Linked DNA regions of Homo sapiens: region 2 is linked to region 1. The links come from fine-mapping of genetic effects on gene expression. A gene starts in region 1. The other region holds a variant in brackets. All regions are shown on one strand. Distances are between the middles of the regions.

The links.
Region 2: its variant is fine-mapped to the expression of BMAL2-AS1 in sun-exposed skin (GTEx, PIP above 0.99).

Annotation. Positions count from the first base shown.
Region 1 is chr12:27,445,323-27,448,244 of GRCh38, forward strand. It overlaps BMAL2-AS1 (BMAL2 antisense RNA 1), which reads right to left and starts at 1,312. Exons shown (of 4, transcript NR_109975.1): 1 at 1,175-1,312. It overlaps SMCO2 (single-pass membrane protein with coiled-coil domains 2), which reads left to right and starts at 1,414. Exons shown (of 9, transcript NM_001395208.2): 1 at 1,414-1,503.
Region 2 is chr12:27,388,454-27,391,375 of GRCh38, forward strand. It overlaps BMAL2 (basic helix-loop-helix ARNT like 2), which reads left to right. Exons shown (of 17, transcript NM_020183.6): 8 at 726-843; 9 at 1,643-1,786. BMAL2-AS1 (BMAL2 antisense RNA 1) reads right to left here. Exons shown (of 4, transcript NR_109975.1): 3 at 1,942-2,036; 4 at 1,336-1,715. Among named protein-coding and RNA genes, the nearest start is that of BMAL2-AS1, 57 kb to the right of the region's middle. The variant T/A (reference allele first, on the strand shown) is at 1,243.

The DNA of each region.
Region 1 (2,922 bases):
CAGTTTAATTTGAATTTCAGATAAACCATGAATTTTTTTTAGAATAAGTATATTCCATGCACTATTTGGCATATAATTATATTAAACATGTTTTTACTGTTTACTTGAAATTCAAATTTAACTGGGTGTTCTATATTTTATCTGACAACCCTATTAAGAGTTTTGAATTTCAATAATTCATATCACAGCCTTAGTTTAGGATTCTAAAATATGAAACAAAAGCCACAATTTCAAAACTGAAAACTTGCAACGTAAACTATATAAGCTCAATTTGTTACAGCTGCAATTCACTCAGACCCACATGTCCCAAGATAAGACCACAGACAAACCATTTTAACAGTTAACTCCACAGGGACCCATGTGTCCCAGCAAGACCACTTACCTTTCCACAAGTGTCTTAGCTCAGGCTGCCATCACGAAATACCACAGAGTGGGTGGCTTAAACAACAGAAATTTATTTTCTCACAGTTCTGGAGAATAGAAGTCCAAGATCAAGTGCTAGCATGGTCTGTTTCTGGTGAGGGCTCTCTTTCTGGCTTGTAGAAGGTGGCCTTCTTTTTTTCTTTTTCTTTTTCTTTCTCTCTCTCTCTTTTTTTTTTAAGACAGAGTCTTGCTCTGTCGCCCAGTCTGGAGTGCAATGGCGTGATCTCAGCTCACTGTAACCTCTGCCTCACAGGTTCAAATGATTCTCCTGCCTCAGCCTCCCAAGTAGCTGGGATTATAGGCACCCACCAACACGCCCAGCTACTTTTTGTATTTTTAGTAGAGATGGGGTTTCACCATGTTGGCCAGGCTGGTCTTGAACTCCTGACCTCGTAATCCACCCACCTCAGCCTCCCAAAGTGCTAGGATTACAGGCATGAGCCACTGCACCTGGCCAATGGTGGCCTTCTTAATGTGTCCTCACATGGTGGGAGTTGGGAAGCAGGGATTGGGAACAGAGGGAGCAGGAGGGGAAGGGGAGAGAGAGATGGAGGAGGGAGAGAGAAAGCTCTCTGGTGCCTCTTCTTATAAGGGCACTAATCTCATTTATGAGGGCCCCACCCTCATAACCTCATCTAACCTTAATTATCTCCCAAAGGCCTGATCTCCAAATACCATCACATTGGGGCGTAGGTCTTCAACATATGAATTTGGAGGGAAAAACAATTCAGTCAATAACACAGAAACTTACCTAGTTTATAAATTGGATCAATCCCTGACAAAACGTCACTGATCAACTTCCACTCTGAAAATACTCCATGACTAACCAGCATCCTAACCTCCCCACTTTGAGACACTATGGGACTCTATCAAGATGATGTTGATCCTCGAGTTTAATAAGAGCCAATGTGGGTTCTGTGACATCATCATCTCTCTGCTTCTGATTGGTCAAGTATCCTCTCTCTCTCCCCACTTTTCTCCCTCTAATCCAGTGGTTCTCAAACATTAGCTGTACCTGAGGCCCTTGGGGAGCTTCTTAAACCTCAGGCTGCTGGGCCCACTCCCGGAGTTCCTGATTCAGTAAGTCTGGGAGGGGGCCTGGGAATTTGCATTTCTAACAAGTTCCCTGATGCTTTTGCTGATGCTGGTCCAGGGACCATGCTTTAAGAACTTCTGCCTTAGAGATCCTCTTGAATTGTCTGGGGTCGGGGTTAGGGACGGTGGCTGAGCATTGGCATTTTATAAAGTTCCCCACGTGATTCTGACATGGAGACAGCATTGAAAACACTGTTCTAATGCAGTTTCCACACTGTAGTCAGTGTGCTTTTTGGAAAGCACAGATCCGATAAAGGAACTCATCAGCTTAAAACAGTGAATGGCATCTCACTGCCCTCAGTAATAGACACAGCCCCTTAACAAGGCTTATGGGGCCCTGTATGATGGGTTTCCATTTACTTCACTTTCACCTCCAGCCCCTTCTTGAGCTACCTCACCACCTCATGCCCCACAGTCCAGGATTACTGGGGAAACCACAGTTCCCTGAAGATGATCTTGATCCTTTTCTCCATAAGGCTTTGCCCATTCTGCATCTTTACTGGGGAAGCTGTCACCACCGACACACCTCTCTACCTGGCTAACCCTTTCTTGCTCTTCAGAGCCTTACTACTAACAGGGTGATCCATGGACCAGCTGCAACAGCCTCTTCGGGAGCTTGTTAGAAAGGCAGAATCGGCCAGGTGCGGTGGCTCACACCTGTAATCCCAGCACCTTGGGAGGCCAAGGTGGGAGGATCGCTTCAGCCCAGGAGCCTGAGACCAGCCTGGCAACACAGCAAAACCTTGTCTCTATAAAAAATACAAAAACTTAGCTGGGCATGGTGATCCGCATCTGTAGTCCCAACTACTCGGGAGGCTAAGGTGGGAGGAGGTCAAGGCTGCAGTGAGTGGTGATCGCAGGCTGGGAGACAGAGCAAGACTCTGTCTCAAAAAAAAAAAAAAAAAGCAGAACTTTAGGCCTCACTCCAGACCTCCTGAATCAGAACCTACATTTTAACAAGATCCTAGAATGATTCACATTTACAGTAAAATTTGAGAAACTGTTTTCGGGCTTCTGTAGATGTACTTTCTCTGGACTTACGCGTCTGAGCCCCAGAAACTCAGCCGAGTGCCTCTCCTATGTGCTGCCACCGCAACCTTCCCTAGCACTTAACACATTGCACCTGACCAGAGCCAAGTGGCCTGCAAGCTCCGCAGGGACAGGAACTGTATCTTTACGCATGCTTGCATTCTCCACTCCAGCACAGTACCTGACACATAGCAGATGCTCAAAAATAGTTATCAATTAAATACATGTTTTTAGAAACAAGTAGAGAAAGTATTAGCTTTCCGGTTAGAAAATTTTGGACTTAAGTTCTTGATTTACCACTTACTAGCTGTAGGACCTTGAACAAGTCACCCTCCTCCCAGAAGTTGTTACTCATTGTTAAATTGAGAATATTAT
Region 2 (2,922 bases), 57 kb before region 1:
TTCAGAAGAGGGGTGGCCACTGTGGGTCAGGAAGGCGTCACACATGAAGTAGGATGTCTGCCAGGCTTGTCAGAAGGAAGGTGTAGAGAAGGGGAGGAAACATTTCAACCTGGGAGAAGGGAGTCCCGGAAGTCTAGGGAGTCAAAGGCAATTTGGCTGGAGTGGCCAAGGGATAGGGAAGGGGTGATGAATTCTGAGGGGTGGGACTGTATCAGCAAAGGCATAGACCTGGGGATGCTGTGCCTTTTGGGAGTGGTGGAATGGGAAGTGAGAGGTATTCTGGGTTGGATTTTACCTATCAATAGTATGGTAATTTTTTAAACTGTATGGTAAATATCTGATAAAGTCACAGATATTCTGTGATTTCTATATTATACTATGATGTAATCTCTTTTTTTTAACAAGGACAAAAAAAGTTCAAAGTAAATCACAATCATTTACAAGTAACATGTTAACAAGAGTTACAAGATTTAGCAGAATACTAGCAATTGGTGTTTGTATATGGTTTGTGTATATCCAGGGATGGTTCTATACGCATGTATTTTTTTCTGTCTACAAGTATCACCCTGCTTTGAACATTAAGTTCATGTCACACAGTGTCGTGGACATATCTTTGAGCTTGAGAAAAATCAATCAAAAATCAAAAAAGAACATTTATTGTATGCATCAAGAAATGTAGAAAAAGCATGGTACTGATTTTAAATGAATGTCTACCTTATGAATAGGCTAGTTTGACTGGACAAAGCTTATTTGACTTCTTACATCCAAAAGATGTTGCCAAAGTAAAGGAACAACTTTCTTCTTTTGATATTTCACCAAGAGAAAAGCTAATAGATGCCAAAAGTAAGTGTCCATTTCCGCATGCTTATTATTTTATGTAAATGTAATGATCACCTAAAAGTTTAGCTACACAGTGTTTTTAAAACAGCTAACTAAGCTTTTATCAAGAGAGAATTGTTTTGTAAACTTTACATCATACTTAATAAATATATATAGCTATATAGAAAATTCCTATATTCATACAGACATATACAAACACAAATTCATTGATATGAAGATGCTTTGGGGAAAATATGAGTGCTTCATATTTGCTATTTTTCATATGCAAATAAAATCTTTACAAGAAAGTATCATTTGGATAAAAAATTGCTGAAGTTCCCATTATTTAGCTATATGCTAAAAGACAATTACTCTCTTTTTTATATGGATTAGGTCTTTTCTGTATGAAAGACCTTGTATAAT[T/A]GTGTTTGGGAAGTATAAGTATTTTTTTCTTCTCTGAAAATGCCTAGTACCAAATAATTATGTAAAATATAAAACAATTGATTCCTGTAATAGTTAAGGTTTTTTTCATTTTTTAATTTAATTTTTATTTCATTTCACTTAAATTAACTTTGTTCTTCCCCATTTGAGGAAAAAAGAAAGATAAATTGCAAATGTCTGTAAGTTATCAAAATGTGATTGCTTGACAAATACATTTTTTGGGTATATTTCACTTCAGGGTTTACTGTACAATCATGCCATTGCTTTAAAAAACTGTTTCCTTTCTCAATAATAGATGGTCAGAAAATGTTAGGAGATAAATTTCAAAATTATTTGACAATATTCTTTTCCACCTATTCTCTCGCCCCCTTCTGCACGAAAGCTGGTTTGCAAGTTCACAGTAATCTCCACGCTGGAAGGACACGTGTGTATTCTGGCTCAAGACGATCTTTTTTCTGTCGGATAAAGAGTTGTAAAATCTCTGTCAAAGAAGAGCATGGATGCTTACCCAACTCAAAGAAGAAAGGTATCATTTTGAAATGTCAAGTGATGCAAAGCATGGCTATAAAATTAATGTCCTAAATATTTTCTGTACAGAAAAAATAAAATATATGGTCAAGGGAAATATTTGAATTCAAAAGCATCTTAAAAATAAGATTTTTTTAAACCAAAATTACTTACATTTGTTCATCACATCTTTCGAATTTATCAGGTAATTACATATTATCTTTGTTGCCCAAGATTTTAATGGTGTTATTGAAATTGTAGTTTGGGGCCTATCAAGTGGGAAAAAAATGACAAGAGATGGAAATAAAACTTTTGCTGTGAAACTTCATTATTACATTTTAAAATATAAAGGTTAGATGTTAAAAAAACTTCAATAGTACAAGAGCCTGATTTGACTAATTTTGGTGAAAGTTTCTTAAGATGTTCCAGGTGTGATTTTAATTTTTTATGAGATGGTGATTCTTCGGTAAATATCTCATTTGTTTTCTTATGATCCTTTGCTAGATTTTTCTTGCAGATATTTACTTTTTGAATTGATTAAATAGTCATCTATTTAACTTAATTGGGAAATTTCAGGGACTACAAAATGTCTCATGACTTTTTTGCCTAAGAGCATATTAAGCTATGAGATATAGGATTCCATAGGCAAATTTTAACATGGGATTTGCCTTCCTATCCTTTAAAAGGATATTTATATGGAGCCACAAAAATTCAATTAAGTTTTGGTCGGAATCTTTTTTGACAAACACCTGAAACGGTAATTGCTAATACTCATTTATTTAACGCTAACCCTGTGCCAGATACTGTGCTAAGTGTTTTAATCCTCATGAAAACACTATTCTTTTTTTAAAAATTTTCAACATTTATTTTAGATACAGGGACTACATGTGCAGGTTTGTTTCATGGGTATATTGCACTAAGGTAGTGAGCATAGTACCCAGTAGATAGTTTTTCAACCCACACGCCCTTCCCTCCCTTCCCCCTCTAATAGTCCACAGTGTCTGTTGTTCCCGTGTTTATGTCCTTATGTGCTCCATGTTTAGCTCCTACTTATAAGTGGGAACATGTGGTATTTGGTTTTCTGTTCTTGCATCAATTCACTTAGGATTATAGCCTCCAGCTCTATCCACAGTGCTGCAAAGGACATGATTTCAT